Linked DNA regions of Homo sapiens: regions 1, 3, 4, 5 and 6 are each reported to be linked to region 2. Evidence: microRNA targets listed by miRTarBase, many of them from high-throughput screens and not tested one by one. Region 2 holds a microRNA gene; each other region holds the end of a gene's coding sequence.

Region 1 (5,295 bases), not on the chromosome of region 2:
TGCAGAAGTCCTTCAGACTTTCCCAGGAGGCTTCTCATGGCAATGCAAATTGGCCCAAATCTGCATACGAGCTGATCTTTTGCTTCCTACTAGTCCCTCTGGAGCTCACAAAGTAAAGGTCCCACAAAAAACCATTCATGCTTTTATTCTAGCAGAGACCAATTCTGTTCAAAACCCACTGCATACGGTGACTAGATTTCCAAGAGTTAAGGTAGCTTAAACAATGTGACCTTTATTATCACAAAACCAACCAGGGTATGTGTGTGCATTAGGGGTGAGAAGGAGTTCACAGTGTGGGTGACTGGCAGGTTGGAAAATTCCATCCCAAGTGTCATGATGACACAAGATACTTTCAGTGCCACTTCACCAGGCAGAAACCTCCATGGCTGAAGCACTTCTGCCCAGACATCACTTGGCCTGCTGGACTCACTCAACTAACTCAGTCCGACAGGCTGTGCTTGGCTCATGTTACCAGCCGGATCCTGTGCCCACCATGGCTCTGTGCTTGGCCTACAGCTGGTCCAGGCGTGCTGCGACCGGCTTCTGCCTTGGAAGCTGGTATCTGGACAAGGGGGACATGGCAGCGCCCAAAAACTCAGAGACGCCAGCAACCACAGAGCCCCAAGGGGTGTTACAGCTTTTGCTCAGGGAATCCCAAGGTCTGAGCCCCAAGGAAGCATTACAGCTCATTTGTGTTACAGCTTGTCTGTTCCCACCATCCACACACTTCAGTGAATGGGGGTGTGTCACAGCTTGTTTGGTCCTGCCACCCTGCTCCAGCCCATGGCTCATGGGCTGGCCTGGCCCTGCTGCCGCTGCTTCCTGTCACATGGGGTGGCTGCCTGGGGCTGGTGGAAGGCAGGAGGGCTACAGTGTTACAGCTCCTTTCACACCCGCCATTTGGCAGTTTCCGAGTTCTTGTCCCATGACCAAGAAGAATGATGTTATGTGGACACCAGAGAGTGAGCAAGGCAGGGAACTTTATTGAGTGGCAGAAAAGCTCTCAACAAGAGGGGACCTGAAAGTGGGTAGCCCAATGTGTAGCTGGGCCCAGGGTTTTTATGGGCTCAGAATGGAGACTGCATACTGATTGGTCCATGGGTGGGCCTGGAAAAAGCACCATTTGATTGGCTAAAAGGCATTGAGGAAGTTCTCACTCCAGTCATGGACTCTACTTGGAACTGGCAGCTCAATTTTCAGGCTTTAAACTGTCGTTGGCTTGAAGTTTGGGTTTCACCAGGGACCCGTCCTTAGTCTGCCTAGCAATGTATCTGCCTCCTACCACTATCAATGAGATAACCAATACTTTCCCCTGGAGAAAGGAAATTTCTGCAATCTGCCTGCCAAAGCCAGTCCATGTCTTCTGTCCAAGGCTGATGTCTATGCCCTAATCAATCATAGGAGGGGGGTGAGGACTCCAAAGTGTTCAAGTGACTAGTGAATTCTTCAGATAGAGAACACAGCATGCTGCCATAACTGCATTTTAATGTGACTAAAATGCTACACACCATGGCTCTTTGCCAGTTGGTAGAAAAGAGATGACATTTTTAAATAGGCACTGGCAGGGGCATAACTCTGGGAAAGGCCCCAGTCAAGTTGAAAACTGCAACACAGTTCACAAAATCTTCCCATATATCTGGCAGTACAGACAATATCCCTAGTGTGGATGTTCAGATGCAGGAGGCTCAACTGCTGGCTCTCTCCCTAAAAAGCTAATCTCCAAAGCATTGCTCTACTGAGTTATCATGTTAACAAGGAAAGATGACATTGCCTTCACTTCTACTTTTCTCTAGGGTGAACATGCTGGCACGAAATGAGGTTATGCTAATGGCTAAAGATTTTCCAACATTCACTAGATTCATAATACTTTTCTGGGTTCTTCTGATAGCAAGAAACAACCCAATGTCACTTGGATACACAAAATCAGAACAATTTATTACCTATAGCTAAGAATGAGAGAACTTGGGTAGGGTCCCACAGAGGGTTGCATCTGAAACACAGTAACAGCAACCTGAGGCTGCAGGGGACAACTTAGGTAAGGCAAGCGGATTGCATTAGCTACGTTTTCCATGTTCCCCATGGATTGGCTAATTTGAGTAATTTGGGCTGGAATACAGCAGTCTGGAGTGTGAAAGCCCACTAGCCTTGTCCTCAACACTGAGTCTCACACACACACACCTAAAATGTGTGGTACTGACATAAAGACAGACATATGACCAATAAAATAGAGAATCCACATATAAACCATGGCATATATGGACAAATGATTTTGACAAGTGTGCCAAGACTACTCAACAGAGGAAAGATGCTCTTTTCAAAAAATGGTGCTTGGAAAACTGGATAGCCACATAAAGTGGACTTTTGCCTTAAACCATATGCAAAAATGAACCCCAAGTAGATTAAAGATCTAAATGTAGCCAGGCACAGTGCATTACAACTCCTGCCTGTAATCTCAGCAATTTGGGAGGCCGAGGCAGGGGGATCACTTAAGGCCAGAAGTTTAAGACCAGCCTGGCCAACATGGCAAAACCCCATCTCTACTAAAAATACAAAAATTAGCCAGGTGTGGTGGTGTACACTTGTAATCCAAGCTACTTGGGAGGCTGAGGTGGGGTGATGGCTCGAACCCAGGAGGCGGAGGTTGTAGTGAGCTGAGATTCCACTACTGCACTCCAGGCTGGGTGACAGAGCAAGACTCTGCCTCCAAAAGAAAAAAAAAAAAAAGACCTAAATGTAAGACCTTCAAATATAAAATTCTTAGAATAAAGCATAGGGAAAATGCTTGGCATTGGATTTGATACTAATTTTTTTTAATATATAACATCAAAAGCCCAGGTAACAGAAGTAAAAATAGATAAAATGCACTACAGTCATCCCTTGGTGTCTGTGGGGGACTGATTCCAGGACCCCTTGTGGATACCAAAATCATCTGATGCTCAAGAGGTCCCTCACATAAAAAGGCATAGTGTTTGAATATAACCTACACACATCTTCCTATATAGATTATCATTAGGTTATTTATAACTTCTAATACAATGTAAATGCTATGTAAATATTTATTATACTATATAGTTTAGGGAATAATGACAAGAAAAAATGTCTGTTCATGTTTAGTACAGATGCAACTACCCTTTTTGTTTTCCAAATATTTTTGATTAATGATCACTGCAATCCATGGATGCTCCAAATACTTTTGATCCATGGTTGCTTCGATCCATGAATACAGAACCCACAGACAGAAAGAGTCAACAGTACATCAAAACTTAAAATTTCATCAAAGGACACAATCAACAGAGCGAAAAAGCAACCTATGGACTGGGAGGTAATATGTAAAAAGCATATATTTGGTAAGGAGTTAATATCCAGAATGTATAAAGAACTACAACTCAACAACAAAAAGCAAATAGTCCCATTAAAAATGGAAAAAAAAGACTTGAATATTTTTCCAGATACACAAATGCCTAACAAGCACATGAAAAGATCCTCAACATCATCAATCATTCACAAAATAAAAATGAAAGACACTATAGATTCCACCTCACATCCAACAAGATAGCTGCTATCCAAAACAAAAGGCACTACAAAAAACCCCAAAAACAGAAATAGAAAATGAACAATGTTGGTGAGGATGTATATAGATTGCAATCCTTGTGCACTGCTGGTGGGAATGTAAAATGGCACAGGTACTATGGAAAAATTTTCCCAAAAATATTAAAAATAGAAATCCTGGCCAGGCGCGGTGGCTCACGCCCGTAATCCCAGCACTTTGAGAGGCCAAGGCAGGCAGATCACAAGGTCAGGAGATCAGGACCATCCTGGCTAACACGGTGAAACCCCGTCTCTACTAAAAATACAAAAAAATTAGCCAGGCGTGGTGGCAGGCACCTGTAGTCCCAGCTACTCGGGAGGGTGAGGCAGGAGAATGGCATGAACCTGGGAGGCGGAGCTTGCAGTGAGCCAAGATCACAGCACTGCACTCCAGCCTGGGTGACAGAGCAAGACTCTGTCTCAAAAACAAACAAAAAAAAAAAATAGAAATCCTATATGATCCAGCACCACCATTTCTGAGTATATACCCTATAAGAATTGAAAGTAGAATCTTGAATAGACACTTGTACACTCATCTTCATAGCAGCATTATTTCAATAGGCAAAAGGTGGAAGTAGCCCAAGTATCCACTAACAGATGAATGGATAAATAAATGTGGTATATAAATACCATAGAATATTATTTCACCTAAAAAGGAAGGATATTCTGACACATTATACAACATGGGTGAACCGTGAAGACCTTATCCTAAGTGAAATAAGCCAGTCTCAAAAGATAAATACTGTAGAATCCACTTATATGAGGTACAAATATATATCAAATTCATAGATATCTATTGGTACCTCATATAAGTACCATAGAGTATAGAAATATAGTTGAGACATTTCTGGGGAAGTAGGGAAGGGGAATGAGTTGTTGTTAATGGGTACAGCATTTTACTTCTTGGTAAGAGGAAAAATGTTCTGGAGATTAGTTGCATAAAAATGTGGAATTTATATAACATTACTACCCAATTACAATAGTCAATGGTAAACTTTCTCCATTGTGAAATCTCTGATGTTTAATGAGGTTGGAGTTTTAGCTAAAGAATTCCCCACATTCATGGAGCACACAAGCCTCTCTTCACTGTGGATTTTCTGGTGATGAACCAGGTGAGACTTTCTAATAAAGGCCTTCTGGCATTCGCTGCACTCATAAGGTCTTTCTCCACTGTGGATTTTCTGGTGCTCAACAAGTATATGCTTGTGGCTAAAGGCTTTCCCACACTCTCTGCACTCGTAAGGCCTTTCTCCAGTGTGATTTCTCCAATGTTTAATGAGGTTGGAGTTGTAACGAAAGAATTTCCCGCATTCGCTGCACTCATAAGGCCTTTCTCCCGTGTGGACTCTCTGGTGTCTAATGAGCCTGCAGTGGTACCTAAATGATTTCCCACATTCACTGCATTTATAAGGCCTTTCTCCAGTGTGATTTCTCCAATGTTTAACAAGGCTGGAGTTGTACCTAAACAATTCCCCACATACACTGCACTCATAAGGCCTTTCTCCAGTGTGAATTCTCTGATGTCTAATGAGTGTGGAGATATACCTAAAAAATTTCCCACAATCATTGCACTTATAAGGTCTTTCTCCGGTGTGAACTCTCTGATGTTTAATGAGTGTGGAGCTGTCCATAAAGAATTTCCCACATTCCCTGCACTCATACGGCCTTTCTCCGGTGTGAACTCTCTGATGTCTAACAAATGTGGAG
Region 2 (5,295 bases):
ATGGCTTCAACCCAGGAGGTTAAGGCTGCAGTGAGCTAGCTGTGATTGCACCACTGCTGCACTCCAGCCTGGGCAGCAGAGCAAGACCCTGTCTCAAAAAAGAAAAAAAAAACAGAAAAAACATGCCCTGTATGCTATTATTTGTATGATTATAAGCACCAGTAGTTTCTTTTAGAAGCCATGATGAGTCCTGTCCAAGTTCAGGACAAAGATCTTTCCTTGGGAGAAAAATCTTCAGAGGACAGAAGACGAGTCTATCAGGTTCCACCTTCCAAGCCTCAGCCAAAATCTGCCGCTTAAGCCCTAGATCTAGGTAATGTTCAGTAAGGCACACAAAAACCTACAGCGCCACCTACTACCAGGATGGAGTTTAAAAAAAGAAAGAGGAAAAAAAAAAGAAAAATAAATCCTATAGCTATAGACAACATTCTACCTCCCCTGACCTTCACTGCCCTTGACTGGTCTCTGAGGCTCCACAGGACAGTTTGAAACCAACAGGTCTATGGGATAAGAAGTCACACCTCCCATGAAGTAACCTCAGTCTCTCTCATCACCAATTCTGCCTCTATCTTGGGCTGAGCCACTCCCATCCATGCCTATATCCTGCAACAGCCTCCTGACGGTCTCCCTGCTTCTACCCTCAAACCACTGCCTCTTCTCAACACAGCTGCCAGGGTGGTCTTCCAAAAACCTATGTCGCTCTGCACAGATCACAGGTCACAGAGGCCTTCCTGGGGCCCACAAGTCCCTGCATAATCGGACCTCCCACCCTCTCCCACTCTAGTCAATTCGGGCTTCCTGCTGCTCCCTGAACTTTCCTAGAATATTCCTGCCTCAGAGCCTTTGCACTTCCTGTCCTCGTTGCACGGCTCACTCCTTCCTTTATTGAGGACTTTGCTCAAATGTCACGTCTTTTTTTTCTTTTTTTTTTTCTAGCTGGAGTTTTGCTCTTGCTGCCCAGGCTGGAGTGCAAATGGCGTGATCTCGGCTCACTGCAACCTCCACCTCCCAGGTTCAAGCAATTCTCCTGCCTCAGCCTCCCGAGTAGCTGGGATTATGAACATGCACCACCATGCCGAGCTAATTTTATATTTTTAGTAGAGACAGGGTTTCACCATGTTGGCCAGGCTGGTTTCGAACTCCTGACCTCAGGTGATCTGCCCACTTTGGCCTCCCAAAGTGCTGGGATTACAGGTGTGAGCCATCGCACCCGGCCAAATGTCTTTTTTCTTTGGAGATATTGCTCTGTCACCCAGGCTGGAGTGCAATAGTGCAATCTTGGCTCACTGCAACCTCTGCCTCTCGGGTTCAAGCAATTCTACTGCCTCAGCCTCCCGAGTAGCTGGGATTACAGGTTACAGGCATACACCACCACACCTGGCTAATTTTTGTATTTTTGGTAGACAGGGGGTTTCACCATGTTGGCCAGGCTGATCTCGAACTCCTGACCTCAAGTGACCTGCCCGCCTTGGCCTCCCAAAGTGCTGGGATTACAGGCGTGAGCCACCACCCCCGGCCAAATGTCTTAATCCAGCTGCTTTCTATCCATCCCTCACCCTGCTGTCTTTCTCTTCACAGCGTGTCACCGCTGACCTTATGTTATACACCTATTTTCTTATTGTTTTCTTGTTTGTCCCCCTGACTGGAATGTAAGCCCCCAGAGGGCAGAGAGGTGGCTTTATATTCAGAGATGGACCCTACACATCCAGGACAGACCCATTGAGGAGGGAGGGACTGGCTGGGCTGCCTGGAACCTTATACTTCAGACTAACTCTTGCGCCCACAGTGCCCTGGGCAGTCCTAACATCCCTTTGTTTGTGTGCCCAGAGCATCAGACTCCAGCCAGCCATTATCTCAGGCGATTTTATCTCTCTAAGTATCTGTTCTGCTCCTACGTGAGCTACTTTGAATTCCCAGGCACCCAGCCTGGAGGCGCTGAGCCTGCCAGGAGCTTGGTAAGGGTGGCTCAGCGGCACCCATGGGTGGAGTGAGTGGCAGGACTTACAGAGCCGGGACTTCAGCTCTGAGGGCTCAGGAAGCCTGATCTCACCCCATTCCTGCTGGGCTTATTCACTTGCTCTAGGCCTGGCTCAGAGTAGGTGAACCAGACGGACGCTGCCAGGGTCCCCAGCCCAGCAGGGGACACAGAGAAGGTGACCAACACGAAGAGCTCTTTTTAGTTGGAAAAAGTGCTCTGAAGGCAGCCAGCGGAGTCGAGTGATGCAAAGCATCAGGGTGATGCGCTTTACACGACATGGCTGGGGAGGCCCCTCAGAGGCAGGGGCAGCCTGAGAGCTGAAGGATGTGGGGGCCATCCTCATGAAGCGAGGAGAGCAGCGCCCAGTGCTGGAAGGCCCCATGCAGAAAGTTGCCTTGTGTGTTCCCAGGTAGCTGGGGTAAGGAAACCCCACCCAAAGCAGGGTGAGCAACCTGCCCATGGTACACCAGGGCTGGAACGCAGGGCCCCAGTCCCAGCCAGCCTCTGCCCACTACGCCAACCAATTTCCTCTCTGCTCACAAGGCTGAGATCCTTATCATCACACACAACAGAGGGTGGGTGCAAAGGTCAGGAGAATCCATGAGCTGTGTCCAAGCCTTCCCGAAGGACCCCCTGCCTCTGGCCTCTCCCCTCCGGCCAGGGTTACTCACCCCGCCACCACCTGGGGCGCTGCGCTGTATGGAGACTGGGGCTGCAGGCTCCTTGTAGCCACCATAGGACTGGGCCACCGGCTGCTGCTGGGGCTGCTGGTAAACTGGAAGATGGGAGGAGACAGGGCTTGGAAACTGTCCTGCCAAACCCAGCCCCTCCCAGAGCTCCCGAGAAGTCCATACCATGCACTTCCACCCCGCCCCCAACCTGGCTCAAGCCCCACAGCTCAAAGGCTGATGTCCACGTGTGCACATTTGCCTGTGTGTTGTATCCCACGCAGGGGCTCTGAGCCCCATGACCTGGGGGCCTCTCCTTTCAATCCTCTTGGCCCAGTACAGGCCTGACCCTGGTGCTCACGTCCTCATTCTGGATGAGAATGGAACTTGGGGTCTTGGGAAGCAGTCTTTTCCTCGCCTGCATGCGTGCGTGCATGTGTGTGTGTGTGTGTGTGTGTGTGTGTGTGTGTGTCTGTCTCTCGCCGACTTCCTCCCCACCCCAGCTGGCCCGGCCTCAGGTCCTCTGGTCCCCTCTTGCACACAAGAGGCATAATCGCCTGTTGATTAAGAGCAAGGCTCCGGAAGGTGTATCTGTCTGTCTGTCTTCTCCTGGCTTCCTCCCCACCCCACTGGCCTCGCCTCAGGTCATCTGCACCAACAGGACCTGCACTCACCCGGGGCACTGGTCGGGATGTGGTGAGGCTGCTGCTGCTCCAGGGGCCGCCGGTAGCTGCTGCCGTCCTGTGAATCCCGACGCTCTGGCTCCATGCCCTCGCCCCCGCTAGGGCCCATGCGGCTCTTCTCAAACTCCTCATGGTATTTTATCTGCAAGGTCAGAAGGCACTAGGTGAAGGGTCCCACTGCAAACCACCCAGTTCCTTCCCGTGACCCTCAAGATCCCAGGATGGGAGAGACTACCCAAGAGCTTTGGGTACAGAAAGCCAGGTCTCGCTCTGGAAGCACCAGCTGTGTGTCCTTGGACAAGCTACCTAATCTTGCCAAGCCTCAGTTTTCACCTCTGCAAAATGAGACACCAGTCTCCCTCAGACACTGTTGGAGAATGCAATGAAATGACCGATGTAAAAGGACCATGAGAACTGAAGAATCAGACCAAAGTGAGTGGTCCCTTTTCTTTTTTTTTTTTTTTCGAGACGGAGTTTGGCTCTGTCGCCCAGGCTGGAGTGCAATGGTACGATCTCAGCTCACCGCAACCTCCACCTCCAGGGTTCAAGTGATTCTCCTGCCTCAGCCTCCTGGGCGGCTGGGATTACAGGCGCCTGCCACTACGCCCAGCTAATTTTTTGTATTTTAATAGAGACAGGGTTTCATCATGTTGACCAGGCTGGTCTCAAACTCCTGACCTCAGGTGATCCACCCGCCTCGGCCTCCCAAAGTGCTGGGATTACAGGCGTGAGCCACCGTGACCGGCCAAGTGGTCACTTTTATATGCCTGCGGCAGGGGCGGGGCTGCTCTGTTTCCGCCTGGGTCCACAGTAACCACAGCAGCAGCCCGTTTCCTGAGCTCTTACTGCGCCAGGGCCGTGCTAGGTGTTTTATGTCACAGGCTCATGTGAGCTCGTCAGCGCCCCTGAGGGGTAGATTGCAGACCCCATGTAACAGGCAAGAAGGAAGCGAAGGGATTGATAAGTGAAGTGAGTGGCCCAAGATCACAGATTCCAGAGCCTTGCTCTTCATCAACAGGCGATTCCACCTCTTGTGTGCAAGATGTCGTGGGTACTACAGCCTAGGATGCTCCGCTGAGAATCCCAGCCTTTAGGGATAAAAACTGCCAGACCCTCCCTGAGGGCGGGACATTGTCTTGGATGGGCTCCTTCTCGGGTCAGGTTCCAAAAATGAGCAGAGAGGCCCAAAGAAGTCATATCCCTCAGGACCACCCCACTAGGCGGGCATGTGAGGCTCCAAGCCTTCAAGTCAGTCTCTTGCCCCCACAGTGCTCTACTGGCTACAGAGTCCCCCACCTTGACCACCACCACCCAGGAGTCTTGAGTTGGGCCTCATGTTGTTTGAGGGCTGTGACTGTGCCTGCCTGGGGCTGGCTGCATTAGCCATCAAGGTCAGGAGGGCAGGGGAGGCAGGTGCCCACCAAGCCAAGCTGGGGAGGGGAGGGAAGCTGCACTCTGCCCAGACCCCTTGGGTGCTATGGTGGAGGACTTGGCCAGTTTGGGGGAACCAGAGCCCCTGCTACCTCCATCAGAGACCTAAGCAGGGTCAGCCAGAGGAAGCCCCACCTCCACTACCAGAAAGAAACCTCAGGGTCAACTGGCCCATTTGTGTCCAGAGCCTCGGCGCCAGCTCAGTCCTCTTAGCCAACTGAGTTAGAGAGAAATGGTCGTTCATTCACCTTGTCTTCTTCAGGCTGAGTCCCATGGTGGGACGAGAACACCGGCCTCGGTGTTCCCTGCTAGATCCAGATCCTGATTGGCCCCAGGCTTCCTCCACCTCCCATCCCCCATGGCACCTTCTCCAGACACAAGCCCTTTCCTCCTCTCAGGTCTGAAAACTGTCCAGATGGCCTTCTGGGGCTGTGCCAGACTCCCAAAGACAGGCCTGCCAAGGTCTCCTGGATCTCAGCCCAAGAGCCAGACCCTGGAGAATCACGGGTGACTCCTTGTGCTTGCGGCACCCTGA
Region 3 (5,295 bases), not on the chromosome of region 2:
GTGAACTTTAGCATAGACTATATTTCTAATATTGTGTTAAAGCCAGGTGCAGTGGTTCATGCCTGTAGTCTCAGCTACTCAAGAGGGTTGGGTGGGAGGATCCCTTGAGCCCTCGAGACCAGCCTGGGCAACATAGATAGACTCCCCCCACATCTCTATTAAAAAGATTATGTTAAAATAATAAGAATAATATGTTATGTAAAGACTAGGGCTTCCAGTGTCAAAGTACAAACCGCTGTCTATTTTTGCTTCTCTTCTAGGCACTGCCTCCTTACCTGTGAGGAATGCAAAATAAAGCATGGATTAAGTGAGAAGGGAGACTCTCAGCCTTCAGCTTCCTAAATTCTGTGTCTGTGACTTTCGAAGTTTTTTAAACCTCTGAATTTGTACACATTTAAAATTTCAAGTGTACTTTAAAATAAAATACTTCTAATGGAACAAAAACATTGTGTCTGTCACTCACTGAAATGTATTCCGTGGAAGGCTTTCAAGTGAACTAAGCGTTACATGTTTTTCTGCTCTTTAAGAACATGTCGGGGCATGGCGCAGTGGCTCATGCCTGTAATCCCAGTACTTTGGGAGGCCGAGGCAGGCAGATCATTTGAGGTCAGGAGTTCATGACCAGCTTGGCCAACATGGTGAAACCCCATCTCTGCTAAAAATATAAAAATTAGCCAGGCGTGGTGGCACATGCCTGTAATCCCAGCTACTGAGAGGGAGGCTGAGGCAGGAGAATCACTTGAACCCAGGAGGCGAAAGTTGCAGCGAGCAGAGATTGTGCCACTGCACTCCAGCCTGGGTGCCAGAGCTAGACTCCATCACACACACACACACACACACACACACACACACACACACACACACACACAACATGTTAGGAATCCTCACACACACACAAATGACATTGCACCCCCACCCCAACTTGCTTACAGCTAAATAAGAGAATTAAGTCTTCTCAGATTAGCCTCTATTCTTTCTTTTACTCTGCTTTTTTTTTCAGTGTTTTAAGTTATCTGATAGAGAATTGGAATTAATGTTGAAGAAGTTAGGAAGTCATGACCCCAAGAAAATTAATGTGTATGGAGATAGAAACAGGACAAGACTGACTTACAGGTATGAGAAGGGCTTCCTAAAATGTAGGGGCAACATTTTTAACTTAGTGAAAAGTGTTTTGTTGGAAAGGGTCAAAATATGAATCAACTATCCTTTCAGTGCTCCAGGTGACCTTATGGTTCAACAGTATGGTTCAACAGTGGAGTTTTGGAAGTGACCATTGTCTTTTTTTGTTTTTGTTTTTGTTTTTGTTTTGGTTTTTGTTTTGGTTTTTGTTTTGGTTTTTGTTTTTGTTTTGAGACAGGGTCTTGCTCTGTCACCCAGACTGGAGTGCAATGGCATGATCATAGCTCACTGCAGCTTCGACCTCCCAGGTTCAAGCCACCCTCCCACCTCACCCTCCCAAGTAGCTGGGATTACAGGTGTGTGCCATCATGCCCACTATTTTTGTAGTTTTTGTAGAGGGGGGGTTTTGCCATGTTTCCCAGACTGGTGTTGAACTCCTGAGCTCAAGCAATCCACCTACCTCTGCCTCCCAAAGTGCTAGAATTATAGGTGTGAGCCACCATGCCTGGCCTCTTTGTCTTTAGGTTATCTGCTTAGCAAATGGGCACATGCTTATGGGCAGCCCTCAAGAATGGGGTTCTTTCATATACTACTAGTGGCCTGAAACAAGAAACACAACTTCCCAAATTGTCTCTCATTTTCCCCAAGGAACAACTTATTTATGGGAGGAATCACTGGAATAATTAATACATGGAATGATAAATTTAGAATTCTAGGGAGTTCAGAGGCAGCCAATGCAACTCCAGGGGTTGGACTCCTATTCTCCTGTCAGATTTGTTGCATGAAAACAACAATAACAAAATCTGGCCAAGTGCAGTGGCTCACACCTGTAATCCTAACACTTTGGGAGGCCAAGGCGGGCAGATCACTGGAGGAGTTTGAGACCAGCCTGGCCAACATGGTAAAATGCTGTCTCTACTAAAAATACAAAAATTAATCGGGCATGGTGGTGCATGCCTGTAATCCCAGCTACTGGGGAGACTGAGGCACGAGAATCTCTTGAATTGGAGAGGTGGAGGTTGCAGTGAGCCAAGATAGTGCCACTGCACTCCACTCTGGGCAACAGAGTGAGACTCTGTCTAAAAAAAAAAAAAAAAATTAAGAAAGAAAGGAAAAAAAAAGAAACCCTTCCATGTGGGAACCTTTTGTTTTATGTATGACAGGTTGTCTGAGCCCTACAGAAAAACTACTCTTGCATCTTTGCAACTTCTCAGAAGAATGCTTTATATATGTATCATCATTTATATCAATATATAGGCAAGGTGCAGTGGCTCACACCTGTAATCCCAGCACTTTGGGAGGCTAAGGTAGGTAGATCACTTGAGGTCAGGAGTTTGAGACCAGCCTGGCCAATATGATGAAACCCCACCTCTACTAAAAATGCAAAAATAGCCCGGTGTGGTGGCACATGCCTGTAGTCGCAGGTACTCAGGAGGCTAAGGCAGGAGAATTGCTTGAACCCGGGAGATGGAAGTTGCAGCGAGCAGAGATTGTGCCACTGCACTCCAGCCTGGGTGACAGAGCGAGACTCTATCTCAAAAAAAAAATATATATATATATAGATAGATAGATAGATGATAGATAGATAGATAGATAGATACATAGATAGATACATAGATAGATAGATATATAAGAGGTTTGTGTATGTACACATTTGGGTTTTACTTAATACATCTTGAACATGTATCATGGAAGTTAAAAGAGAAACTTCATTAAAAGTTAATCGTTTACATGAAATATTTTATTTTAAACATCAAATTATACAGAAGTTTTAATTTTTACATGAACATTAAGAGTAAGCCTCTTTTTATATTACGTATGCTATTTTTTCAGTCCATAAAGTTTTATTTCTGTAAATCAGAATGCAAAGCCAATATCCTATCATCTTAAATGCAAGTTTAACTCTTGTCTCTGATAACTAGCAGTTGGTGACTCTTTGTTATCTCAGCTATTGGCAAAAATTCAGAATTGGGCACATTTATTTCCTACTCCCCAGAAAATGATTTCCTAGGGATCAGAACATTTCACATTGCTTAGCACAGCAAGTCAATGTAAAAAATCTATCCCAAGGTACTGGGGAAAGATACATTTATTTTATTTATTTTTATTTTTATTTTTATTTTTTTTTTATTTTTTTGAGACGGAGTCTTGCTCTGTCACCCAGGCTGGAGTGCAGTGGTGCGATCTCGGCCAACTGCCTCCCGGGTTCATGCCATTCTCCTACCTCAGCCTCTTAAGTAACTGGGACTATAGTCACCCGCCCCCAAGCCTGGCTAAGTTTTTGTATTTTTAGTAGAGATGGGGTTTCACCGTATTAGCCAGGATAGTCTCCATCTCCTGACCTCGTGATCCACCTGCCTCAGCCTCCCAAAGTGCTGGGCCACTGGGGTGAGCCACTGCACCTGGCCAATACATTTATTATTGTTGAAAGGAGCATTGTTTTTACAGATGACATCTTCATAGTTCTTCTCAATCAAATTGGGTTTATTGCTTGGGCTTTCTACATTTCCTACGTAGAGAAGTTATTCATTGAAGCAGTTTATCATGACGATCTATCTTAGAGTGAAAGAAAATCAATAAGGAAAAAACTGGAAGTTCATCCAAGAGGCTTTGATTATTCTGCTGCTATTTTTTTGGGTTTCTTGTTCGTTTGTTTTGTTTTGTTTTGCTTGTCTGTCGCCCAGGTGGACTTCAGTGGCACAATCTTGACTCACTGCAACCTCTGCCTCCCAGGTTCAAGTGATTCTCCTGTCTCAGACTCCTCAGTAGCTGAGATTACAGGCATGCACCACCACGGCTGGCTAAATTTTTGGCATTTTTAGTGGAGACAAGGTTTCACCATGTTGGCCAGGCTGGTCTCAAACTCCTGACCTCAAGGGTTCCACCTGCCTCAGCCTCCCAAAGTGCTAGGATTACAGGCATGAGGCACCGCACCCAGCTGCCTATCTATTGTACATATTAGAAAGCTAGTACCTGGGGGAGAATGTCTGTTTCTTGTGTTAAAGGAACAGCACCTGCCTTTTGACATTTCACCATTACCAACACTCATCACAAAGCTGGTCACAAGCTTATGAAAGCAGTACCTTCATGATAAAAAAAAAAAAAGAAAAAAACTTGGAAAAGAACAGCAAGATAAAATCGTAGATAGACTCACGTGAAAGAAAGAACTGATGAGACTACACGGTAGTAAAAGTTGGATGTCTAACCAATTTTATTGGCAAACTTTCCCTAGGATGATATGGACTGATATTCTACAGTGACGAGAATGCAAACCTTCCCATTATTTTGAATTTGATTAATGGAATTTAAAATGTAACATTAGTTTGTCCACGGATGCACCTGTAAGAAGAGACAAACTTGATATCTGAAATCAGCAAACCTTGTCTAACACATTTGTAGTTCCTCTAGACAACATAATAAAATGTTTTTAACAGCGGGTAATGACACTAATGAAAATAAGGAAGATCCTTACTCGACCAGAAAAGATCAAAATGATTTCCTTAATTCCATGCACCTCCATGGCACTCCAGTGATGCCTAGAAGTGTGTTTCTTTCTTGGCTTACATACAAGTGGATGACTAGAAAGGATGCTTTCAAGATATTTTTAGTTTCAAAGGCATTAACCAAACATTCCACCATTAGCTATGGTGATCATTTGTTCTAAATTTTGCCTCAGTTTGTGTGATCCTGGAGTTCAAAAGTTATTACTATAAACTGTATTCTAATGAAATGTATGTTTTATAATTTAAAAAATAGTGGAATAATCCTTTTGTGTTTGTTTCTCTTATTAAAATAGATCAGTTTCCAGAAAGACTCATATGTTATAGATATTATACTGTATATTATTACATATATAAATATGTAGCATATAATATACTGTATATAATGCTTATTATATATTTTAAAATTCTCATTTAAACAAAGATATTCTCTTCCTTTGCTGTCAGAATGGTTTGTCTAGTTTAACATTATGAAAGTAATAAAAATGTATCTTGCGTGATTTGATTAAGTAATAGCAATAAAAATGTATCTTGAATGATTTGATTAAGTAATGAAATGTAATGCAAATGTTGTGTAGGCAATTTTCTTGATATTCAAACAATGCAAACTGTTAATTGACAGAAAACCTCTCCATTTTGGAACTCTGCTCCCAAATTTCAACTATAAAATTCAGTT
Region 4 (5,295 bases), not on the chromosome of region 2:
CTTGGCAGAGAGAGACCTGCTGCAATATCTATTGAAATCAAAAGCATTGATGATACCTCAAACTTCGATGAGTTTCCAGAATCTGATATTCTTAAGCCAACAGGTAACACCACCAGCATTGTCTCCTGCTGCCTTATAAGCACATTATTTACCCCCAATTTTGGGATGATGTTTACAAATCAGGGTAGTGAACATGGAGAGGAATTTCATTTCTTCAGGTTCTTTGTAAGTACTTTTCTAATTCTAATGCTGGGTAGTGGTGAAACCTTGGTGAATGGAAAATGAGTATCAGCTCCCATGTTTAGACTGCTCAACTGGGTGAGTAAGTCACAAAAATCTGTTCTTTTGTTATTTACTAAGTGTTAGGTAATCTGAAATGACAGGAATGGGAAAATAAAACATTAAAAAATTTGTGAAGAAATATGAGATTTAAAGAACATGAGCAAGAAAATGTGGAAAATTCATAGAGTGAGGCCAGGCGCGGTGGCTCATGCCTGAAACCCCAGCACTTTGGGAGGCCGAGGTGGGCAGATCACAAGGTCAAGAGATCGAGACCATCCTGGCCAACATGGTGAAACTCCATCTCTACTAAAAATACAAAAATCAGCTGGGTATGGTGGCACACGCCTGTAGTCCCAGCTACTGGGGAGGCTGAGGCAGAAGGATTGTTTGAACCCGGGAGGCAAGGTTGCAGTGAGCTGAGATGACGCCACTGCACTCCAGCCTGGCGACAGAGCAAGACTCTGTCTCAAAAAAAAAAAAAAAAAAAATTCATAGAGTGAAAAATAAGCTTTCCCAAATAGAAACTGGTGTGTTCTTCATAGTCCTGTCTTCAGCACCGTGAGCAGTCCATTGGAGGCAAGGCAGTGAATCAACTCTCACATCTATTTCTTTCCCAGTGGCCACAAGTAATCATCCTGAGACTGACTACAAGAACAAAGACTGGGTCTTCATCAATTACACGTACAAGCGCTTTGAGGGCCTGACTGCAAGGGGGGCAATACCTTCCTACATGAAAGCAGCAAAATAGTACTCTTGCCACGGAATCCTATGTGGAGCAGAGTTCTTTGTATAACATCATGCTTTTCCTCTCACACTCTTGAAGAGCTTCCAAGAAGTTGATGGAACCCACCAATATGTCATAGTAAAGTCTCCTGAAATGTGGTAGTAAGAGGATTTTCTTCCATAATGCATCTGAAAAACTGTAAACAAAGACAACCATTTCTACTACGTCGGCCATAAACAGCTATCCTGCTTTGGAAGAGAAGCATCATGAGCCAATTTGATAGGTGTTTTAAAAATAACTTGAGTTTTCCTAAGTTCATCAGAATGAAGGGGAAAAACAGCCATCATCCAACATTATTGAGATTGTCGTGTATAGTCATCGAATATCAGCCAGTTCCTGTAATTTTGTGACACGCTCTCTGCCAAGCCCACCAAGTATTTCCTTTATAGCTAAAAGTTCCATAGTACTAAGGAAATAAAGCAATAAAGACAGTCTCAGCAGCCAGGATTCTGGCTGAAGGAAATGATCCGCCACCCTGAGGGTGGTGATGGTAGTTTCTACCCATACCTCAGCCTCAGGCGAGTGGCTTATAGCCTCCATTCATGGTGCACTTTATTTATGGTACTAAGATAAAGACTGTCAATCCATTGATTTATCTCCTCCTGTCCCCCATCTAAAATACCCATGCTGCTTTTCTGAGTGTTGATGGGGGTTACCAGCTTGATCCACTGTTGCTCTTAGAAGGCCCAGAAAGTCTTTGGGCATTGCCAAGAAATCCCGGATTATGTGGAAAACCCTCACTTTCTCTTCACGGCTGTACCAGAAAATCCCTAAGACAGATCTTGCCGTGGACTAGCAATACCTGCAAGTGCTGCCAATGGGAACTCAATTTATTCCTGGGAACCTAACGAGGAGAGCCCAGGCCTAGGCAGGAGGCCTGGAACCCTCTTGGCTAAGGTGCTGTTCCTGTTCCTGCAAGGTCTCCAGAACCCCTTTGGAAATGGTGAAGGAACCAGCCCAATAGAAGTACAGAGCCAGCTGACAAGTCCTTGTAAAGCTCACTCCTCAGTCCTTGGCACAGCCATGTTTTGTCTTCTCTCTTGGTATTTCTTCTCTCCCAACTTTAGCCATTTTGCCTTGGAATCATGATTACAATTTTTTCCTTTGCAGATGCCTTCCTGGGGGATACTCCTCCCCACCCTAAAGGGTCGCCTGCAACTTAGGCGGATTGGGTCTCTCTGCTGTGGCGTTCTCTCTTGAGAGACCCTCTGAATTTTAGCACAAAGTGCCTTCTGTTTCACAGCTGCCACCACCTTTAGAGGAATTTCGTCAGAAAAATGTGGAGGCTCCATATTAATGCATTATTTTTTAAAAAGTTTTGATAACTCTTAAAGCATCATTTGCACCTATGTGGGAACTTTGCCTGTTGCAAAGTATTGTGGCCGAGCTGCAGCTGGGAGCCTGCTTTCTGCCAGTCTTGAGGTTCTGAAGATCAGCTTTGAAAGGAAAGTATGTCCTAGCTTAGCCATTCAGAAGAGAAAAATGGAATATCAGAGTTACAGTTGTCAGTGAAACTACTTTGGATTTTAACCTCTTAGAGGAAGAAAAAAGGTTAGGGAAGTGTCAACTCTGGATGAAGGTGATGTGTTTGCCTCTCAGTCTTTCATTCATAGCCTGCTAGTGAAAAGGAAGTAAATGAGATTCTTTTGTGTGACTTTGTAGTCTCTTTGTATTACCAAATAGTTGGGGTGTTGACTCCTGTGTGTTTTGCAAGAATGTGTGGTAAGCCTGGGTAAAGAGAAGGAACTGCGGTGTTGGGAGAGTCTTTGTGTTGGGGAGTGGCAGGGGATGATTTGTTTCAGGGGAAAATGCCCACATTTTAACTTTTAAACTTCTGAATAAACTGTGTAAAAACAGTAGTGGAAATACGTGGTGTGATTTATTAAACTGATAAGAACAGATACTGCATTTGATCTTAGCAAAAAGGCTGAGAGGGGATTGTGATGTGATTTAAAGCAGATAGTGGCATATAACTTAGAGGCAGAGTGCTGATGGCTGCTTTTAACCCCTTTGTCCACAAACCATTACAACGCCTAATTTCGAGTGTTAATTTCAAAACTGTATCACCATCTTCATGCAAAGTGCTTTTCCATCTCAGGGAAGCTGGGACTGACTTTTGTTCTTAGGGAGCTAGTCTCCTGAATCACTGTCCATATGAAGAGACTTCTCTTGCCCCGACTGCATGTGCTTCTTCCACCCACCTCAGTGTTGCAGGGCAGTGGGCCCTCCCCTCACAGTAAGGCCAAGGGCACACACATCCTGACAAAAGTGCTGTCATCTGGTGGACCTTTTGTACAGCCTTTTACAGCCCAGCCCCATTTTTTCGCAGCCTGCAGTCAACGAGGAATCTCATGAGCTCATAAGATGGAATTGTTGGCTGGGTGTGGTGTCTCACACCTGTAATCCTAGGACTTTGGGAGGCCGAGGCAGGGGGATCACAAGGTCAGGAAAGATTGAGACCATCCTGGCTAACATAGTGAAACCCCGTCTTTACTAAAAATACAAAAATTAGCTGGGCATGGTGGCACGAGCCTGTAGTCTCAGCTACTCAGCAGGCTGAGGCAGGAGAATCGCTTGAACCTGGGAGGCGGAGGTTGCAGTGAGCTGAGATCGTGTCATTGCACTCCAGCCTGGGTGATAGAGCGAGACTCCGTCTCAAAAAAAAAAAAAAAAAAAAAAAAGATGGAATTGTTCAGCCCTGTGTCCATCAGAGCAGGGTTCTGTCTCTGAGATGTTGTATGCTGGAGGAGTCCCATATGCCCCACTTGTTAGCCCCTTTCTGGGTAGGGAAAAGCACCTCAAGGAGTCCAGAAGGGAGGGGCAAAGACCAGCTAGAGTAGAAACTGCAGGCAGAGGAAGCTAAATGCAGCCAGAATGGGTAATGTCTTTCTAAGGCTTATGAATCCTAAGAAACATGTTGGGCAACACTGGCTCAGTGTCGATCCTGTTGACAGAAATTCTGTTTCCTACTCTCATTGGGGTAGTTAGAAAATTGCATACTAAAATGAAACCAAAATCATATCATTTGATGTCTCCCAGTTCAGGAATGCATCACAATTTTCTTTAGTACCTGTTTCTTTGTAGTTGGCTTGGTTGATTGGCATTTATTTAGTACTCCTCTCCCCTGCATCTAAATTACCCAGGCTGCTTTTCTGACTGTTGATGGGTGGATACCAGCTTGATCCATTGTTGCTCTTAGAATTACTTTCAAAGGGCTGGGCATGATGGCTCACGCTTTAATCCCAGCACTTTGGGAGGCTGAAGTGAGTGGATCGCTTGAGCCCAGTTAGTTCAAGACCAACCTGGGCAACATGGCGAAACCCTGCCTCTACCAAAAATACAAAAAATTAGCATGGTGGCACGTGTCTGTAGTCCCAGATGCTCGGGAGTCTGAGGTGGGAGAATCACTTGAGCCTGGGAGGTGGAGGTGGCAATGAGCCAAGATTGTGCCACTGCACTCCAGCCTGGGTAACAGAGTGAGACTCTGTCTCCAAAAAGAAAAAAAAAAAAAAGTCAAAACTAAGATTCACATGAGTTCCTTCAGGATTAATACTCAGGTTCTGCAAAACAGATTGCCAATTTGAAAACTCATCTGTACAGCCTAGTAAGAGTCCCCCTCTGCCATCAGTTGGTAATGCTCTTTGTCAGAATTATTTCCTTGGAACTTTTTTAGATCGCCTTGTCCTGGTTCTCCTGGGCTTCTGTGTAACCCAAGTGGTGTTTTTAATTGAATTCAGAAGGATTCAGTGAATGATATTTTCATTTCCTACAGAGCATATTTCTCTGGAATGATCCATCAAAGCCAACACTGACAAAAACGGCCTTCGTGATGCTTTTTCACGCACATTTTCAGAGAAAAAACACCTTGCCCAAGCAACATTCAAGCTCAGTTCCAGGCAGTCTGGTGAGGCAACAGGTTGCTCACCGTGGTTCTGAATTGCAGATCAGTTTGAGAGAATTCCCAACAACAAGTGGCTTAATGGAATGTAGCATCACCTTATTTACATTAGTGTTGATGTGACCTTGACAAGCCAACCCAGAGTTGTGAGTAGCTTAGTGAAGCATCCCAGAGATGTTAACCTGTTAACCTTTAAAACAAACTCACTCTCCTCCCATCTCCCTGACTTCCTTCTTATTAGTTCCACACTTAAATGTTGGTGCTGGTGCCTTTGCCCTCTTCAGTCGTGTGATCTCTTGGTGATCTCCATACTGTGGCTTCACCTACCACC
Region 5 (5,295 bases), not on the chromosome of region 2:
CGAGAGTAGCAAGGGGGCAAAGGGAAACTGAGGCCTAGATTTGGAAGTTGCACAGTGTCATTTTTGCCACATTTTATAGGCCAAGAAAACTCAACAAGGTTAAGCGAAGGAATACAAATCCACCTCTTGAAGAGAGAAGTGGTAAAGTCACATTGCAGGACTTGTGTACAAGGATGAATTGTTATAGCCATTTTTGAAAACCTAGATGTATTTTCTTTATTTCCTATTGAATTCATTGTGGCAGGATGGAGGCATTGGAGCAAGCAGGGTATAGGGAGGGTGTCCGATTTTCCTTTTCTTGCCAAGTGCTCCTAGGCCAGAAGTTGGGGAGCTGTCAGAACAGGCCAGCTCCTGGGATACAAGGGGGAATTCACAGGGCCTACCATCTCTGTATCAGGTTGGGCACTGCTTATACTGCTGGCCCCAGGGATGGTGCCCAGGCTGAGCAGAAGGTTGAGGGGTGGCATCATCTCGGGATGCAGATGATCCACTCCCTTTTCTGTGCTTCACCAGGGTTTGTGGATGACATCATCCAACCTTCTTCCACACGTGCCCGAATCTGCTGTGACCTGGATGTCTTGGCCAGCAAGAAGGTACAACGTCCTTGGAGAAAACATGCAAATATTCCATTGTAAACAAATCAAAGGAAAAGAAACCAAGAACTGAATTACTGTCTGCCCATTCACATCCCATTCCTGCCTTTTGCAATCATGAAACCTGGGAATCCAAATAGTTGGATAACTTAGAATAACTAAGTTTATTAAATTCTAGAAAGATCTCTTTTGTGCCTTACTGTAAAATTATTTACTTTTTTAAACATTTTAAGTTGTATTTTTTGAGCATAAATTCGATTTTTTTAGGTGGAAATCTGAAAAATCAATACAACTAGAAAGAAAAATAGTACACAGTGTTATCATCTAGAGCTGATTTTTATTTCACACCTCTGGGTATTGTTCTTTTTCCTCTCGAGTTAGTTTTTTTATCCATAGGTGAGATATATAGTAAGTTTTTAAGGCAAAGTATTTCTTAGGCTTAAGTTTCCTTATTTTAAAAATAGGGTAATATGCCCTATCTATCTCCTAATTCCTCCATGAATTGAGGATTAAATGTGATGTTTGCAATTGTGGTATATGTGTTTAGCAGTACAGATGCTCAATAAGGCATAGCACCCTATGTTGACTCAGGTTATTTCCAGAAATGTGTTCTTAAAATTAAAAAAAAACTTTTTAATTGCGAAAATTTTCAAGCCGATAGAAATGTTGCAAGAAGTGTATTGTATCCACTTCACCTAGATTCTCCAGTTGGTAACATTTTCTCCATTTGCTTTATTTCTTCCATACGTAGATATATCTAATAATATATAATATGCATATAAGATATATCTAATTATATTATTAATATAATTAATGTATAATTATATCTAACATGATTATATATATTTATATATTTATATTATGTATTTATACATTATATAATTATATAATTGTATAACATATACAATATAATTATTTAATTGACCCCTTTGAAAGTCAGTTGCAGATTCGTGACCCTGTGTTCCTAGAAACTTGTATCTCCTAGGAACAAGGTCCTTTGTCTTACATAGTCTGTCGTTCATGACGTTGACATTTTTGAGGAGAGCTTACTTGCTGGTTATTTGGTAGAGTGTCCTTCAGTTTGGGATGTCTGTTTCCTGAGGTTTAGATTCAGATAAGACTAACACATATTCCTTTCAGTGCGTCACATTAGTAAGCACATTATGTCAGTTTTTCCTCCTGTTGGTAACTGATTCTGATCACATGGTTAAGGTCGTGGCTGCAAAGGTTTTTCCATGGTAGTTACCATTTTCTCTTTGTAACTGATAACTAATTTGTGGGGTATTATTTAATCTTGTCTGTCAATAAACTTTCACCTGGGCCAGGCGCAGTGGCTCATGCCTGTAATCCCAGCACTTTGGGAGGCCAAAGTGGGCAGATCACCTTAGGTCAGGAGTTTGAGACCATCCTGGCCAACATGGTGAAACCCCATCTCTACTAAAAATACAAAAATTAGCCGGATGTGGAGGCACATGCCCAGCTACTCAGGAGGCTGAGGCAGGAGAATCGCTTGAACCTGGGAGGCGGAGGTTGCAGTGAGCCGAGATCACACCACTGTGCTCCAGCCTGGGTGACAAAGCTAGATTCTGTCTCAGAAAATTAAATAAATAAACTTTCACCCAATAATTTTAGTATTCATTGATGATTTTTGCCTCAATCAATGATTCTGCATTGATTATAAAATGTTGAGTTTCTAACTCTCTCATATTTATTAGTTGGAACTCTAGGTAAGGAAGGGAGCTTTCTTTTCTCCTGTTTTTGTTTTCTTAGTATCATTTTGGACTTGATTTATTTTATTTTATTTATTTATTTTTTGAGAAGGAGTCTCGCTCTGTCGCCAGGCTGGAGTGCGGTGGCGCAATCTCGACTCACTGCAACCTCTGCCTCCCAGGTTCAAGCAATTCTCCTGCCTCAGCCTCCCGAGTAGCTGGGACTACAGGTGTGTGCCACCATGCCCAGCTAATTTTTGTATTTTTAGTAGAGACGGGGTTTCACCATATTGGCCAGGATGGTCTCGATCTCTTGATTTCGTGATCTGCCCGCCTCAGCCTCCCAAAGTGCTTTTAATATATCCCACTGATTTTTTTAGTATTTCGTTATTTTCTGACAAGATAATGCTCTAGGCTTATCTTGTATTTTCCTTGCCCAGCCCAGGAATCAGCAGTTTCTCCAAGGAGTTTCTTTAATAGGTATGTAGTAGTAGTATATAGTAGTTTCTTAGTTTCTTTTAGTAGGTATGTCATTTAGAAGCTAAAATTGGCACTAGGTATTCACACTGATACTGGATATCATTGCTTTGAGGCATTTCAGCAGACAGAACTAGGAAAATTTATGCAAATAAGTGTGTGTATATATATGTGGGACACATGTATATATGAATACATATTTATCATACTTTTAAATCATGAGTTCATACTGAAACTTTTAATCCAACACCATGGGTGCTTCTTTGCCTTCCCCCATTCTGTATTGTCTCTCTTACCACAGCAGTAATAACCCTGGCTCCCATTATTCTCAATATATTTCACTCATTTGCTCAGTGCTACCATAAATACAAGTTTCAGAATCACTACAGCTCTATCAACAATAAACCTTCTAAAGTTCACGACTTCTTTGTAGTTCATTTTGTCTTTAAACTGAAGATACATGGTTAAGCTACCTCAATTAGTAACTGAGTGGTTATCAATATGAATTAGTCCTTTTTGTTTGTAAACCACTTTAAAGCCTTTCCTCCTACACTGTTGACTTGATTTTACTAAGTTAAAACATTAATAGTTTTACCGAACTGGAGATTAAGTTTGAGCAGAAGTACCAACCATGGAGTGCTGATCCAAGATGCCCCCCCACCTCAGGCATCCTCTCTGGTGAAACCCCAGGGCCCTCCCACTACTGATGGCTTTCCCTTGGCTCCAGAGATCTGTAAGCACTGCTTGGACAGTGAATCATTATTTCAAGGTCAACTTAATGTGTGACTGTTTATTCTCCACTTTTCCCATTTCAAAAATATTTTCCCCTACCCCCCATTCCCAGTAGCCCTTAAGAGTCATTCTTTTTTTTTTTTTTTTTTTTTTTTTCTTAAAGCATCTTTCCACTCTCCTTCAGTCACCAATCCTAGTTGGGCTCTGAGGACTTTTGCAGCAGTCTCTTCACTGATCTCTGTGGCCTCCCACTGAGCTGGAAGTCCTGTTCTCAGCTACCATACTAACTCCAGATCCAGATTTTGTTGCATTCCTCTGCTCCAGCGCCACTTCCAGAGCTCCCTGTTCTCCAGAGTCCTTAGCCCACGTAGGTGGTCCTGGACAGTCTGTCCCTCCCTTGCTTGCCTAGTGAGTTTTCTGAGCCCACAGTTCTTGTTTTCGTGATCTCTGCTATGGTCCATAAAAGAGTACATACAAGCTCTTTTTTTTCTTTTTGGAGGTAAGAGTCCAAGAAGTGTTTCACCAGGTTGTGCAGTCTGGACACCGAGATGGTAGAGGGGCTGTAAGATGGTAGAGGAACCAGCTCAGGAGAGCAGCTGGGCTAGCAGCTTTACGGAAGCCTTGGATGGTGGGGAAACTCCCGTACAGAAACTCAGCTGGTCAAAGAAACTCAAAGCCACAAGACCTTGGAAGCTTTGTCAAGTGGACCAGCCTCCATGGACCACGGAATACCTTGAGAGTAATGACAGTTGAGTGTTCTCTTGTGTGGGAATGCCTTCCCCAGCTGGTGCCCTCACCTTAAAGGGAAAAAGAAAATACACTGAATTTTGTAAATGGGAAATACTTGGGTCCACTGAGCTGATAGCTGACAAGTGTCTGTCTTTAAACTGAGAGCAGATAATATGGTGAGCTGTGGTGTAGGAAGCACTGCTAGGGTCTTGCTGGTCCTGCCCCGCCTTGTGTTAATCCAGTTCCTCCTGAGCTACACAGCTGACAAGTGGTGAAGCTGGGATTTGAACTCAGATGGGTTTGACCCCAGCCAAGCCTGTGTTCTGATCATTTCAAAGTACTACCACTCAGCTGATGAGGAAGGTGAGATGGACTTCTAAGGGTTGGCCTAAGAGTAGGGGTGAGGGAGGTTGGTGGTCTGTTCCCCTGGGCTTGTCTTAACCCAGAAAGCTACTACATTTAGACAGCTTTCCTATCTCCCGCATGATTCTCTTGCAAAGCAGTACCAACAGATGGCCAGTCATCTTTTTGAGTTGCTAGAGTAATGGGGAGCACATCCACAATACACCCTTCTAATGCTTGTTAGAAAGTGCTTTTGTTGCAAAGTTCTTCTAGCTTCTTTTTTTGACCCTGTCTTGGTCTCCCCAGCCCAACTTTCTGCCTCTGGTTGCACTGATACTTTGTCCTGGTGCTGGTGCTTAAGATGTGGTCTGCTCAGCCAAAGAAGTCTGTGAAGGATACTCACCCACATGTGGAGTTGATGAATCAGCCCTCTTCACCTATTCAACAGATGTGACTGTTTTGTCTTTCTGGTTCCAAAGGATTTCTGGAGAGCTATGACTTTACCCTTTTAGAAGTATTGGTCCTCATACTCTGTGCACCTCTGATGTCAGCATGGGATTTCTACAATTCCAAGCAGGAGTTGCAGCCACTTGATAGGCAGTGCCTCAGTCTGGGGCCTCTGTGGAATCCAGCTGGCATATTCCAGCCAATGTGGCAGCCTCAATAGTTAGTTAAGTTTTGACCATGTCCCTACTGTCCTGGGTGGTGAAAAT
Region 6 (5,271 bases), not on the chromosome of region 2:
AGTATGCTGCAGAAAACATGGCTGCTGGCAGATGAGGTAGGGTCAGGGCCATTAGGAGGGTGGGATATTAGAGGATCTTGGGGGACAGAGACCACAACAGGATCTCATTACCCACTTCATAAGTTTTCTTTCCTTTCTGCAGGGTCTCCGGCAGCACCTCCTGCACTATAAGCTTCCCAATTCCACGCTCCCAGAGGGCTTTGAGCTCTATTCTCAGTTGCCCCCTCTGCGTCAGCACTACCTCCAGAGACTGACTTCAACAGTGCTCCAAAATGGGGTATCAGAGACCTAGGATAGTTGATATAGATGGAAAGATGGGTACGTTGTCCTGTATCCAGCCTTTCAACAGATGTCTGGCCAGACGAAGAACATTGTGTCCTAATGGTAGGCAGGAGACCAAGGAGCAGAAGGCTTGCCTTCCTGGGAGCAGGTTGTTTGAGCTGTTTTAGAGCAGTGAGCCCTACCATTACATCCTGATATCTGGGGCTTCTGAAGGTCTGTACTGGGAGTGAAGAGTGGCTTAGCTATTTACCCGCTCTTTGGGGACAGGGCAAACTAAATGCATCCCTTCTTACCTAACTCCCAACCCCTGCCCTGGGCTGAGGCATATGAATGCTATAGTTGTGCATTAAAATAAATGTTTTTTATCTCCTGGAAATTTGATCTGGACTGATTTCAGCCATGTTAGTTCAGGGTTAGTATCTGGGGGTGGGTTATCCCAGGTGAGGAGCAGGACTGCTGTGAGAGAGATGGGGAAGAATCATAAGTGGGAGGTAAAAACTTTGTCCACATCTGGAGACAACAAGAATGTGGGGCCTGCCAGGCACAGTGGTACACACCTGTAGTCCCAACTACTTGGGAGGCTGAGGCAGGATGATCACTTGATTCCAGGAATTCAATTCCAGCCTAGCCAACATAGTGAGACCCCATGTCTGTCTGTCTGTCGGTCGGTCGGTCTGTCTATCTATCTATCTATCTATCTATCTATCTATCTATCTATCTATTTCTGAGACAGGGTCTTGCTCTGTTGCCCAGGCTGGAGTGCAGTGGCGTGATCATAGCTCACTGCAGCCTCGACCTCCTGGGCTCAAGCCATTCTCCCACCTCAGCCTCCTGAGTGGCTGGGACCACAGGCAAGTGCCACCACGCCTGGCTAATTTTTTGTATTTGTAGAGACGGAGTTTCACCATGTTGCCCAGGTTGGTCTTGAATTCCTGAGCTCAAGCAATCCACCCACCTCAGACTCCCAAAGTGCTAAGATTACAGGCATGAGCCGCTACACTTGGCCTATTTTGGTAGTTTCTACATTGTTCTTTGGTCTGAATTCTAAACTTTAGGCTTTCTTAGACTGTCTTTTGCTGTGTGGATTACTTATTGTGTTTGCAAGTAACCAGAGTCAGAGCAGTGTGCCAAGGCCTAGCCCTGTCAGTAGGTAGAGAGAACCCAGTCTTCATAAATGGAGCTGCTGAACACAGAATTATCCAATAGGTTTTTTTGGGTTTTTTTTTTTTTTTTTTTGACACGAAGTCTTGCTCTGTTGCCCAGGCTGGAGTGCAGTGGGGCAATCTCAGCTCACCACAACCTCCCCCTCCCTAGTTCAAGCCATTCTCCTGCCTCAGCCTCCCAAGTAGCTGGGATTACAGGCGCGTGCCACCACGCCTGGCTAATTTTTGTATTTTTAGTAGAGATGGGGTTTTGCCATGTTGGCCAGGCTGGTCTTGAACTCGAACTCCTGACCTCATGATCCGCCCGCCTCAGCCTTCAAAAGTGCTGGTATTACAGGCATGAGCCACTGGGCCCAGCCTTTTTTTCTTTTTTTTTTTTGAGACAGAGTCTTACTCTGTAGCCCAAGCCAGAGTGTAGTGGCATGATCTTGGCTCACTGCAACCTCCGTTTCTGAGGCTCAAGTGATTCTCATGCCTCAGCCTCCCGAGTAGCAGGGGCTACAGGCATGCACCACCACACCGGGCTAGTTTTTTGTATTTTTATTAGAAGCGGTGTTTTGCCATGTTGCCCAGGGTGGTCTCAGACTCCTAAGCTCAGGCAATCCGCCCACCTCAGCCTCCTAAAGTGCTGGGATTATAAGTGTGAGCCACAGCATGTGGCCCCAATAGGTTTTATTAAGCAACTACTGTATCAGCAAATACCAATGATTCTCAAACTTTGTGACAAAAATCATCTGGAGGATATTTTAAAACAGATCACTGGGTCCTACCACCAGAAGCTGCTGATTCAGTACATCTGGGGTGAAACCCAAGAATCTGCATTTCTAACAAGTTCCCAGGTAATACTGATGCTGATGTTCAGAACAAACCACACAACCACAATTTGAAGAGCAGTGGCTTAAAGAGACTTTGCAAGGTAAATTCTGTGATCTCATAGTGTGATATCTAGTGTTAAGTAGGGCATAGAGACCAGGGTTTTTTTGTTTTTTGTTTTTTTTGAGATGGAGTCTCACTCTGTCACCCAGGCTGGAGTGTAGTGGTGCAATCTCGGCTCACTGCAACCTCTGCCTTCCAGGTTCAAGCAATTCTCTGCCTCAGCCTCCCAAGTAGCTGGGATTACAGGCACCTGCCACCACGCACGGCTAATTTTTGTATTTTTAGTAGAGACGGGGTTTCACCATCTTAGCCAGGCTGGTCTTGAACTCCTGACCTTGTGATCCACCCCACCCCCACCGTCCCCTTGGCCTCCCAAAGTGCTGGGATTACAGGTGTAAGCCACCACGCCTGGCTGAGACCAGACTTTTTACAAAATCACTGTTCTGTTTACACCTTGAATTATACTCAGACTTTACCAAGTAGCTAACTACTATAACTTCTCTTTTGAAGTATTTTGTATTAAACATAGGTCTCAGACTTTCAAGTTAGGATTTTTTTTTTTTTTTTTTTTTTGAGATGGGGCTTTGCTCTTGTTGCCCAGGCTGGAGTGCAATGGTGCGATCTCGTCTCTGCAACCTCTGCCTCCCAGGTTCAAGCCATTCTCCTGCCTCAGCCTCCAGAGTAGCTGGGATTACAGGCGTGCGCTACCACGTGTGTCTGATTTTGTATTTTTAGTAGAGACGGGATTTTGCCATGATGGTCTAGCTAGTCTCGAACTCCTGACCTCAGGTGATCTGCCCGCCTCAGCCTCCCAAAGTGCTAGGATTACAGGCATGAACCACCGCACCCGGCAAATGATCATTTAAGCAAATGATCGAAGACTCAAGACACAAAACTACCTGAAGGGAGTGGCTCCCACATTTGTAGGGTACCTTACAGAGCAATTTCCCTTCATATGATTTTGCAGGTGGTGGGGAAACTCTCAGGGCAGTTGTGGCCTGTGCTACATCACCCATTGACCAGAGGTGCCAGTACTAGTGCTCAAGATCAATCGATCGATCGGTCTACCTACCTATCATCTATTGACCTTCAGTGCTACTAAAAACACTCGGATCTTCTAACGTCTGGTCCAGTCTTTCACCCCATCACAGTGAGAGGCTGTGCACAGGGGTAACACAGGCAACGGAATTATATGAGGCAAACACAGAGATCCAGGTTTCTGGGAGTAGCAATGAGGTTCAGCCTTGCAGTCACAAAGGCACCACTAAAAGGCACAAGTAATGGCAGGTAATGAGGCCTTACTTGGAGCAGTTTAGAGTACTTCCCACGTGTGGTGACGCATGCCACACACTCACCACCACCACCACTGCCACAAATGAAGTGCACACTCCACTGCTCCTGTCCTCAGGAACCTGGAAGCCCCCACCTGGTGTCCGAGGTGTGGCTCCCACTTTAAGCGTGGGGCACCTCCTCTCCGGCCTCAAACCTACCGGAGCTCCCAGCAGGCTGCGGCACATCTGACGGCTGGAAACTAGAACCCCTGGGTGGGGACTCCTTAAGGCTCCTCCCGGAAGCGTAGGGACCTCGCTGCCCACACGCCCCTCCCTTTCCTCCTCTGGCGTCCTGGGGTCTGAGGTGGGCGTGGCCAGACCAGCTTTAGGTCCGGGGAGTGTCTCGCCAGCGGCAGCACACCCCTGTAAGTGGTGGCCAGGGCTGCCGTGGCAAAATGAGCTGTCAACTTTAGGTTGACAGGGGTGTGGCCGCGACCGCAAGGGCTTTTGTTGCCGGGTGGACCCAACAGGGATGGGCTGCTGGGGACAGCTGCTGGTGTGGTTCGGAGCCGCGGGTAAGTGCTATCTGGCGGTCAGGGGACCGTCCAGCCTGAGGCACTTTCCTAGGCTTGGGGGTGGCCGGTCAACAGGCCAGGTGTCAGTGGTTCCTCCAGAGGCCTCGAACTCTCACAGCCAAATTTCTCCGGTCCGTGCTTCTGGAGTGCGGGCCGAGAAGCGCCAAGTGCGTGCGAATCCCAGAGTCTGGATCACGCAGCTTGGGAAGGAGGAACATTCTTTGGGGTCTCAGCACCGCCTTGGGGCGGGGCCACCAATCTAAGTTGAGGAAAGCATTGGGGAGGCTGCAGGACCAAATTCATTGCGGCCCCTAAGTTATTCACTGGGAAAGGCGCTCGAGGAGAGAAACTGGCAGACCTATCAGCGCGCACCCGCGGGGCTTCTGCGACCGGAGTCGGGTAGTGGCTTCCAGGCTGAGAGCGCGGCTGGGCCGGGTGACGGGTGTGGCCGCGACCGCAAGGGCAGCTGTTGCGGGGTTCTCTCTTTCTTTCATATCCTATTTCCACCCGCCTTAACGTCCTGCGCCTTCTCCCAACACCTTTCAGGCGCCATTCTCTGCTCTAGCCCGGGGTCCCAGGAGACTTTTCTGCGGTCCTCGCCCCTGCCGCTGGCAAGTCCCAGCCCCCGGGACCCGAAAGTCAGCGCCCCGCCTAGTATCTTGGAGCCAGCCTCCCCGCTGAATTCTCCGGGTGAGCTTTAGACGCCTCCTTCCTCTTTCGCTCACCATACCAGACCCCTCTGGCCCAGCCAGGGGCTCGACGACCCTTGCCTCGCTCCTTGCTCTCAGGCACCGAGGGGTCTTGGCTGTTTTCTACCTGCGGGGCCAGCGGCCGGCATGGGCCCACACAGACACAATGTGACGGGGCGTACGCGGGGACCAGCGTGGTGGTGACCGTGGGGGCCGCCGGGCAGCTGAGAGGCGTGCAGCTGTGGCGCGTGCCGGGCCCTGGCCAGTATCTGTAAGTGCACGGCGGAGGTAGGGTGGACAGTGACCTGCTAGTTGGAGGTTTCACCCTCAGGGTAACGAAGTCCACGTGCGCACCGACTTGCGTCTTGGACTATTCCGCGGGGAGGTCCACCTTGAGTGCCCTTCAAGGTGGCAG

The links. Region 2 holds the annotated microRNA hsa-miR-6779-5p (CUGGGAGGGGCUGGGUUUGGC, at 2,792-2,812, opposite strand). A microRNA usually pairs through its seed, bases 2 to 8, with sites in the 3' UTR of a target mRNA and lowers its output. Matches are read on the target gene's strand: a 7mer-m8 pairs with bases 2 to 8, a 7mer-A1 pairs with bases 2 to 7 and ends in A, and an 8mer does both.
Region 1: miRTarBase lists ZNF548 as a target of hsa-miR-6779-5p. Seed matches in the 3' UTR shown: 7mer-m8 at 3,935-3,941, 7mer-m8 at 3,317-3,323, 8mer at 2,596-2,603 and 8mer at 2,461-2,468.
Region 3: miRTarBase lists OCIAD2 as a target of hsa-miR-6779-5p. The part of its 3' UTR that is shown has no 7-base or 8-base seed match.
Region 4: miRTarBase lists STK38 as a target of hsa-miR-6779-5p. Seed matches in the 3' UTR shown: 7mer-A1 at 2,121-2,127.
Region 5: the mRNA of PCCB is a reported target of hsa-miR-6779-5p. The part of its 3' UTR that is shown has no 7-base or 8-base seed match.
Region 6: the mRNA of RPAP1 is a reported target of hsa-miR-6779-5p. Seed matches in the 3' UTR shown: 7mer-A1 at 580-586.

Annotation. Positions count from the first base shown.
Region 1 is chr19:57,399,166-57,404,460 of GRCh38, reverse strand. ZNF548 (zinc finger protein 548) reads right to left here. Exons shown (of 4, transcript NM_001172773.2): 4 at 1,469-5,295. The coding sequence ends at 4,572. Among named protein-coding and RNA genes, the nearest start is that of ZNF17, 9.3 kb to the left of the region's middle. RefSeq lists an enhancer at 143-642.
Region 2 is chr17:38,912,501-38,917,795 of GRCh38, reverse strand. MIR6779 (microRNA 6779) reads right to left here and starts at 2,817; the gene lies at 2,754-2,817. LASP1 (LIM and SH3 protein 1) reads right to left here. Exons shown (of 7, transcript NM_006148.4): 5 at 3,321-3,471; 6 at 2,650-2,753. RefSeq lists a silencer at 943-1,121 and an enhancer at 4,925-5,295.
Region 3 is chr4:48,880,531-48,885,825 of GRCh38, reverse strand. It overlaps OCIAD2 (OCIA domain containing 2), which reads left to right. Exons shown (of 7, transcript NM_001014446.3): 7 at 261-807. The coding sequence ends at 342. Among named protein-coding and RNA genes, the nearest start is that of OCIAD1-AS1, 23 kb to the right of the region's middle.
Region 4 is chr6:36,491,519-36,496,813 of GRCh38, reverse strand. STK38 (serine/threonine kinase 38) reads left to right here. Exons shown (of 14, transcript NM_007271.4): 13 at 9-103; 14 at 900-2,922. The coding sequence ends at 1,030. It also overlaps the pseudogene LOC124901558. Among named protein-coding and RNA genes, the nearest start is that of KCTD20, 51 kb to the right of the region's middle.
Region 5 is chr3:136,329,392-136,334,686 of GRCh38, forward strand. It overlaps PCCB (propionyl-CoA carboxylase subunit beta), which reads left to right. Exons shown (of 15, transcript NM_000532.5): 15 at 514-778. The coding sequence ends at 635. Among named protein-coding and RNA genes, the nearest start is that of PCCB, 82 kb to the left of the region's middle.
Region 6 is chr15:41,512,563-41,517,833 of GRCh38, reverse strand. RPAP1 (RNA polymerase II associated protein 1) reads left to right here. Exons shown (of 25, transcript NM_015540.4): 24 at 1-36; 25 at 143-658. The coding sequence ends at 292. LTK (leukocyte receptor tyrosine kinase) reads left to right here and starts at 4,007. Exons shown (of 20, transcript NM_002344.6): 1 at 4,007-4,167; 2 at 4,714-4,857; 3 at 4,956-5,127. The coding sequence starts at 4,125. RefSeq lists a silencer at 4,642-4,721 and an enhancer at 4,428-5,175.